Linked DNA regions of Homo sapiens: all the other regions are linked to region 2. The links come from fine-mapping of genetic effects on gene expression. A gene starts in region 2. Each other region holds a variant in brackets. All regions are shown on one strand. Distances are between the middles of the regions.

Region 1 (2,500 bases), 53 kb after region 2:
TAAGAGCAAAGGGTATTCATTAGTTCCTGGAACACAGTGGTCTTGGGTTGATGAATTCAGGTCTGGCTTGATCCAGGGTGCAAATGATATTCCCAGGACCCAGCTGCATGCACCCCTTCCTTGCCCCCTCTCTATTTCTCAGCTCTGCTTTCCTAGTTGATGCCATCCTCTGGCCCCATGTGGTTGCACGATGCCTGTCCACAGCTCTGGCCCCTGCATTCCCTCCTGTTCGTATCTGGTGGGAGATAACCAACAGCTCTTGTCTTCTGTGTGCGCAGAATCCCCAGGACTCACTTCAGTTTGGCCCTGACTGGTCTGAGTCACCCATCCTTAGCAATGACCAGTGGGGCTACTTCAGTTTCGGGGGCTAGGAAAGGCCTCATTGAGGACTCTCTGTTTGCAAAGCTCCAAGGTCTCACTGGGCTTGCTAGAAAACAAGGCACCAAGATAAGGACTGGGGTTGGGTGGGGCTGGGACAGGTGGCTCTGTGGAGGAGGTGGCACTGTGGAGGGCTGTAGAAGGCTGGGTTGGGCTGGGCCTGCGGAGATGAATGGGGGCACATTCCTGGAGTAGGGCAGCGCAGGATCGATCCTGGAGCGCCCAGTGCTTCAGAGTGCCTGCCATGGGTGCTGGGGGCAGGGATGACAGCAAGCAGTGTGTTCAACGCTGGGAAGCCTTTGGTTTTTAAAATTCGATGCCCCTCAGAATGCTATGGAGGGTGGCAGACACTTCCAGTCATAGGAGCACCATGTGGCATGGACCCTGTGGGAGCCAGAGGTTGCTGTCTGATGTCCCCTCCCAAGGATCCTTCCTTCTTCCAGGAAGTTCACCCCTAGGTCCCCTGGGCAGCCCGAGGGTCTGGGACAGGCCCAGAAGCACCAAATTCGATAGTATCTATTTGGCATTATGAATCAAGGAATTTTCTGGAGCCAAGTTTCTCCCCAGTCCCCTCCCAGGCCTGAGAACCCCACCCTGAGTAATTCCGGGCTCTGGGCAGCACCTGGTACATTGTTGGCACTTCCTGGGGGACCTGTCAAAAAGAGATTGATTTTTCTCCCTCCAGTGGTGCAGAAAATCCTTCCTGCTGCTCCAGACAGGTTTGGGGCATGGCTGGCAGGCAGAGGAGGCTCTGGATTGCAGCCCCACCCAACCTGGTGCAGGAGTCCCCTTTACA[G/A]ACCCCAGCTGCTGCTTACATACATTCCAGGACAGGGAGCTCATTACCTCACCAGCAACCCTCTTGAACCCTGGTGAGCTTTGTTGGGGAGGTTGCCCTCTGACTGAGCAGGAATCTACTGCTCTCTGACTCCTGCCAACAACTGGGGTCCCAGCTCTGTGCTCTGGGACACAGTCCTTCCTGCTCACTCTGTCCTGGGTCAGGCCTGCAGACCCTGTGGAGTAGTGACTAGGGATCCCAGAAACTACCTTCTCCAGGCTGAACAGCTCCAGCTCATTCACTGTGGGTCCTCCAGCCCTCTCCTCTAGACATGCTCTGTTTCTTTCCATCTGCTGAGGCATAGTCCAGTTCTGAAAACTGTATAGGAAGACCATCCCCTTCTTTATTGTGGGCATTAGGCCTTAGTTAATATGGCCCCAGAGTGTTGGCTTTTCAGTAGCCTCCTAGCTCATATTGAACTTGTGGTCAATTTCAATCTTTCTCAGTCTCTCCCATACTGTGATTTTGCAATCAATTTTTTAGATATCAAAAATTGTAGATGTTTAGCCCTCTTCTGGCTGGTTTCAGCCACTGTTTTATTCTGTGGAAGGGACTGAAGTCTGCCTGGCCCTGCACTCACATTATCCTCTGTAGATGCCTGAGCTGACTGGAGTCAGATTTCGGTAGCACCAAAAGACCCTTTTACTCCCCAGATTCCCCTCTTTCTGGCCACTCACCATGCCTGAAATGTCCTCATTATGTGCTCAACATGTGCTCTTCCTTAAGCCTGCTCCCTCTTTCAGTTCTCTGTGTCTGTTTCCCAATCTGAAATGCCTTTTCCCCATCTACCTGAGTTTGGCCAGTTCTAATTTATCCCTCCCGTTATCTGACTCCAGCTCAGCCCTGGCCTTCTTGGGGGAGGCTTCCTTGAGATGCACACAGGAGCATCTCACGGGTTCAAGTTTCCTTCTCTGTTGCTTTCACTCCTTCATAGCACTTACCAATGTATGATTAGATTCAGGGGAATTATTAATTCCACAGTTACTTCTGGTTTGGAATCACAAGCTCAGAGGTGGCAAGGACTGCAAACTCAGGGAAGGTGGGGACCGGAAGCTCAGAGAAAACCGGAGCAGCACCTCCTTGTGTCATAGTCTTCCTGGGAACTCCCCAGCAGGGGTGACGCCAAATACCACACAGTAGGTCCTCACTGTGAAACAGGTGCATGAGTGAAAGCCTACGTGGACAGACATGCCCTAGGTCCTGTTCCCCTTGCAAACACCGGGCAGCACCGCTTGCACACAAGGCTCTTCATCAGAGGCGGGGGATTTCAAGGTGAATGACCTGGCC
Region 2 (2,807 bases):
GAATATGGAATATGAATGAATACCTGAATGGTGGCTTTCGGGTGTGTGTGTGTGTGTGTGTGTGTGTAATTTAGAAAGGCAATCTTGAAGGATAGTCAGGACTGGGTGCAGGAGGTTACTACAGTTGGGCATACTTTGTTTCCCATATGGTTGTGCCACTCGCTAGCTGGTGACTCTGGGCAAACACCTTCACCTCCTTGAGCCTCAGTGTCTTCAGCTGAAACCTGAGTTCAGATTTGCCAGACCTGGGCATAGGGACAGCAGGTCCAGCAGGAACACCAAGCCAGGACCACAGCCACTCCCAGGGAGCTCAGTCCCTGGAGCCCGAGAGGAACACTCTCCGGAGGCGCAGGCGCAGCCGCTCCTAGAGACTGGGCAACCCCCAGGTGGCAGGCGGGACCGGTCCGTGCAAACAGGGAACAGGTACCCGGAGGATGGACATTCGCTGGCAAAAACATAAACTGCCGCTCGGAGTCTTGGCACCACCCAATTTCCAGGGACGGTTAGACTCCCCCTAGCTCACTGGATGAGGTGTACACCAAAGAAGGGTGTTAGCCCCCTCGGGTCGGCCAGGGCACTCAAAGCATTCTGTTCCCGGGAGCGAGGCCGAGGTGCACCACCCGCCGCGTCCGCCTGGTGACGCCGCGAGCGCGCTCTGAGCGGCCAGCTGCGCCCCTCACGCTCCCGCGGCTCAGGCGCCCCACTGCTGTTCCGCGCGGGGCAACTGGGCCTCAGCCCGACTCAGTCTGTCGGCTAACAGCAGGATCCCAGAGGAGGCTGCCCAACCTGGGCACCCCCTGCCGCCACTCTCGAATAGGTGGGAGTAGGGAAGAAATACACTGAGCCAGTCAGCCCGTCGCTCCGCGAAAGGGGGCGCCCTCCCCTGAAGCTGGGGTTGGGGAACTGGGGTGTGCCCTGTCAGCCCCAGCTCCCTGTTCCGGGCTGGAGGGAGCAGGGCAGCAGACCAAGGCACTAGGCCTCTCGGCCGAGTCTGGTCCACTCCACCCGAGGGCAGCCTCTGGACGCCCACTCGCCCTGCAATCTGCAAGTTAGTGACGGGTGGGGGGCGAGCGGGCTCCTACCGCCTCCAACCGGGCTGTGCTCCCCAGCCTGCCACCTGCACCCCGGAGCAGGGAGGGGGCCCCCGGGAGCGCGCATGGAAAGGCGCGAGCGCGCGCCTTGTGCAGGCGGCCCTGTCCCGCGGGCGCAGGGGCGCTGGGCGGGCGCTCCGGGGAGGCGGGCGGGGGAGGGGGCGGGGGAGGGACGGGGGAAAGGAGGGAGGGGCGGGGGCTGGAGGCAGCAGCGCCCCCGCACTCCCCGCGTCTCGCACACTTGCACCGGTCGCTCGCGCGCAGCCCGGCGTCGCCCCACGCCGCGCTCGCTCCTCCCTCCCTCCTCCCGCTCCGTGGCTCCCGTGCTCCTGGCGAGGCTCAGGCGCGGAGCGCGCGGACGGGCGCACCGACAGACGGCCCCGGGGACGCCTCGGCTCGCGCCTCCCGGGCGGGCTATGTTGATTGCCCCGCCGGGGCCGGCCCGCGGGATCAGCACAGCCCGGCCCGCGGCCCCGGCGGCCAATCGGGACTATGAACCGGAAAGCGCGGCGCTGCCTGGGCCACCTCTTTCTCAGCCTGGGCATGGTCTACCTCCGGATCGGGTAAGGGCTGCCTGCGCCCTTTCCGCGCGTGTTTCGACAAAGTTGGCACGGCCCGGGGAGGGAGGTGTGCCGCCTGCGAGCCTCTGCCGGCCAACTTCCACAGCTTCTCTGAGAGGCCGGGTGGGTGCGGTGTGGGAGCGGTGGACGCACAAAGGCCCCCCGCAGGACACCCCAGGAGATATAGGCAGGGGGACTGGCCATCCTGAGGACGTCTGAGTCTGGAATCCCCCAGGACCAGAGACAGCCGGTAGGGACGCTCCAGCCTGAGGGACTCTGGGGGAGGGCTAGCTGCTGCAAAGGTTCAGCCCATCCCGGGGACCCTTCGGACCCGGGCATAGGGACAGCAGGTCTAGCAGGAACATCAAGCCAGGACCACAGCCAATCTCGGGGAGCTCAGTCCCCGGAGCCCGAGACGAACTCTCTCAGGAGGCGCGGCACAGCCGTTCCTAGAGACTGGGCAGTCCCCAGGTGGCTGGCGGGGCCGGTCCGTGCAAACAGGGAACAGGTACCCAGGAGGAAGGACATTCGCTGGCAAAAACATAAACCGCCGCTCGGAGCCTTGGCACCACCCAATTTCCAGGGGCCCTTAGACTCCCAGAGCCCCTTCCCGGGCCAAGGGGACAGCACGTCCCACCCCCAACAAACACACACAAAGGTGGGACGAGAGGCGGTCTGAGACACAGAGGGAGACAAGCGCTAGAGAGAGGCGGGACACCCCGCCCCCTGGAACTGGGCAGCAGAGGCGGCCGGGCGCGCGAGCAGCCCTCCGGCTTCACCTAGCGTTTCTGTGGAGGTGGGGCTCGGGGGCGCTCTGGCTGGAAGGTGGGAGGGGGCAGCTCGGGACGCGTCCTGGAGCTGCTTGTGCAAAGCCGGTCACCCTTTGTACTTAAGACAACGCGTGTGAGGCTCGGAGCGGTGTGGGGGCGGGGGGATCTGGGCATGGATAGAGGTTCTGGCGCTGAAGGGCCCGCTTGGTAGGTCTCACACACCCTGCCCCTCCAGCCCCCAGCAGTGAACCCATTACCATCCCTTTTGAGGAGGGGTGGACCGCAGGGGCTGCGGCGAGGGGATGTGCGTGGCAGACCCTTTGTGTTTTGTCACTACTACCCCCCTACCCCGTCACTTCCCCAGTCCACGTCTCTGGAGCGGGGAT
Region 3 (2,839 bases), 110 kb after region 2:
TCATTCATTCATAATCTCTACATGTGTGGGGTACAGCAGCCACAAAACGGGCACAAATCCCTGCCCTCACAGAGCTGGTGTTTTCCTGGGGAGGGTGGATAATAAACAGATGAACAAGTAAACCCGCGATGTGGCAGACGGGTGAGGGCCAGGAAGAAAACCAGGTCAGGTGATGGTGCCCCAGTGTGTGAGGCACCTGTGTAATTCTACACTTTCTCATAGCTGCTTGGACAAAAGCAAGAAGAAACGGATGGAACTAATATTAACAATATAGGTGATTTAACCTATTAGGTCCAAATATTATCATGTCAACATGCCATCAATGCAAAAAATGATTAATAAGTTATTTTGTCGTTTTCATGCCATGTCTGTGAAATCAGTGCATACTGGACATTATGCACACCTGGACTGTCACTGGGCACATTTCAGGTACTCAAGACTACACATTGCTTGTGGCTGCTGTATTGGACAGTGCATGTCTAGGGGACTGCGGAGCAGCTAGGGGTGTTTCTCATACAAGGGTGGTCGGAGAAGGCCTCTCGGAGGAAGTGATTTCTGATCAGGGCCCTGGAAACAAAGCAATAAACCAGGCAGCTGAATGGGGAAGACTTACCCCAGGCAGAAGAAACAGCAGGGGCAAAGGCCCTGAGGCAGGCTCAGGGCAGCAGCTGGAGCAGAGTGAGCAGGAGGGAGACTGGAGGAGACCTGGCTCAGTCAGGGCTGTGGCCTCTGTGAGAATTCCACTTTTCCTCTCAGCAGGCGGGAGCTATGCAGGGTGTTAGGCAGACAGCTTGGCCCCAGCCTGGCTCAGGTTTGAAGAAAGCACAGGGCATCACTGCACAAGCTTTAGCCCCAGATGGCCAGGTGTGAAGTTCACTGCACAGTGCCAGGCACGTGGTGGGCATCCTCTAAAAGCAAAAGTTAGCCCACGCTCCATGAGTCTGATTCTTCAGGTAACACACATCCCAGGTGCCAAGGCTCTGGGCTTCTCTACTTCTTGAAAAAAGGGGTTGGGGGGATCTCTTGGCCTCCCACCCTCCAAGCTTTTCTGACTTTGGCCTATTTCCACATTCCTGGAATTGCTGCAGGTGATAAATGGCTCTGCAGCCAGGCTGTCCTCAGGCATTCTGACATGCAGCCTCCACTTCCTCTGCCCTATGGTGGGAGGGGGCTGGGCAGGGCCTCTGACC[C/G]CACCAGGAAGCTGCAGCACCCTATCCTGGCCTCAGGGCTCCCCACCCCCACCCCATCGTGCAGGGACAACCCAGCCTCTGATTCCTGACTCCTGAGCATAGGGCCATGGGCAAGGCCTTCTCCCCTCTGGTCTGCATATTCTCTGCTCTGTACAGAACCCACGGCCTCATTCATCCAATAAATACTTAGTGAGTGCCTGTTCCTAGCCCATACTGCTGTAGCTATGGGGATTAAAGAATGGACGAGACAGACAGAGGCGCCTGCCCTGTGGAATGGGCCTTCCAGGTTGTAGAGGTCACTTAGCGACCCCCTAGTCCTCATTTCATGGGATACTCAGAACCCCTGGTCTCTCTGACCGCATGTCAGGGAAGACCCTCTTCTTGCCCACCCTGCAACCCAGAATGGCATCTTCTCAGGGCTTCCCCACTCTGGAGGGAAAACCCCATACGAGAGTTTTAGGCTAGAAGCAAGAAGGACTCACTGATCACCTGGGGAACAAACCCTGAAATAGGAAAGGAAAATGCATTTTAAAAATATGCATTACTAGAAAAAAAGAAAAGAAAAGGTGTACTGGCCAGATCCCATCTGTTAATAGCAGCTAACTCTTGGGGAAGGCTGCAGGATTCTGAGTCTTTGCTGGTCTTTTACTGTCCTATTTTCCAGGTTTTCTGCTATGCATATATATCTACTGTATACTCAAGGGTTTAACCAAGAAAGACAATAAAATGTGATAAAACAATCCCAGTTTTAAAAACTAGCACCCCTTGAACCTCCTGGCATAAGTGCGTCTGGCTGGCAGGACCAGAAACTCACGAGACGGTGCCACTGCTCAGACTGACCCTAACCCGGGAAGCTGGGAGATTGGGATTGGACGCCAGAGCAGGGCCTGTGGAAAGGGAGAAAAGGCAGGACAGCCCTGTGAGGGAGGCAAGGGCACAGCCAGCCGTGAAGGGTGAGGTCAGCGGAGGGCATGGGGGTCAGGAGCCCCAGGCCCTGCACTGGTCCTGTAGGCACTGGGAAGTCACTGAAGGCATGTGAGCAGGAGAGGGTGGTGGTCTAGAAGGAACAGCAAGGCCTCTCCCAAGTTCCTCTTCCATTCTCCTTTACGGCATTGCAGCCACACTTCTTCAGAAGTCCTCAGCCTTCTCTGAAAGGGGCTCTCGGGCCCAACAGCCCAGGTTCAAATCCTAAGTTTACACTTCCTAGCTGCGTGTGGTGTCCTCAGCCTGTGAAAATACCAACCTTGTGGTTGGCTGAGAGCCTTAGGTGAGTTAAAACATGAAAAGCACTGGAAACAGGGCCTGGCATACAGTAAGTGCTTAATAAATGCTGGTCACTGTTATTCCCTCCCCATAGCATCAGCAGGTTTTAATCTCTTGTATCACTTTGAAAGTTTCCCTAAGGCAAAGACCGGCTCAGACTGGGTCTGTCACCAGGTAGGTGCCGAGAATTATTTGTCAGACAAAGCAGTAAGCAGCCATCTTGCCTTCCCTCCAGAGACAGAGTCCAAGGCCCCCTCCTCTCTTTATCTGAGGTGCCTTGCACAGGCCAAGCCCATGGCTGCTGGGAACCAATACCTGGGGGTCCCGTGAAGATAGGGCCACGACTCCACTCAGCTCTTTCTCTATCTCTCTTGTCTCCTCCGGAA

The links.
Region 1: its variant is fine-mapped to the expression of WNT7A in esophagus mucosa (GTEx, PIP above 0.99).
Region 3: its variant is fine-mapped to the expression of WNT7A in whole blood (TOPMed, PIP above 0.99).

The regions. Positions count from the first base shown.
Region 1 is chr3:13,825,954-13,828,453 of GRCh38, reverse strand. The region is part of intron 3 of WNT7A (Wnt family member 7A); the gene reads left to right. Among named protein-coding and RNA genes, the nearest start is that of WNT7A, 53 kb to the left of the region's middle. The variant G/A (reference allele first, on the strand shown) is at 1,175.
Region 2 is chr3:13,878,593-13,881,399 of GRCh38, reverse strand. It overlaps WNT7A (Wnt family member 7A), which reads left to right and starts at 1,329. Exons shown (of 4, transcript NM_004625.4): 1 at 1,329-1,654. The coding sequence starts at 1,584. RefSeq lists enhancers at 1,351-1,852, 2,355-2,807.
Region 3 is chr3:13,768,890-13,771,728 of GRCh38, reverse strand. No RefSeq gene overlaps it. Among named protein-coding and RNA genes, the nearest start is that of WNT7A, 110 kb to the left of the region's middle. The variant C/G (reference allele first, on the strand shown) is at 1,191.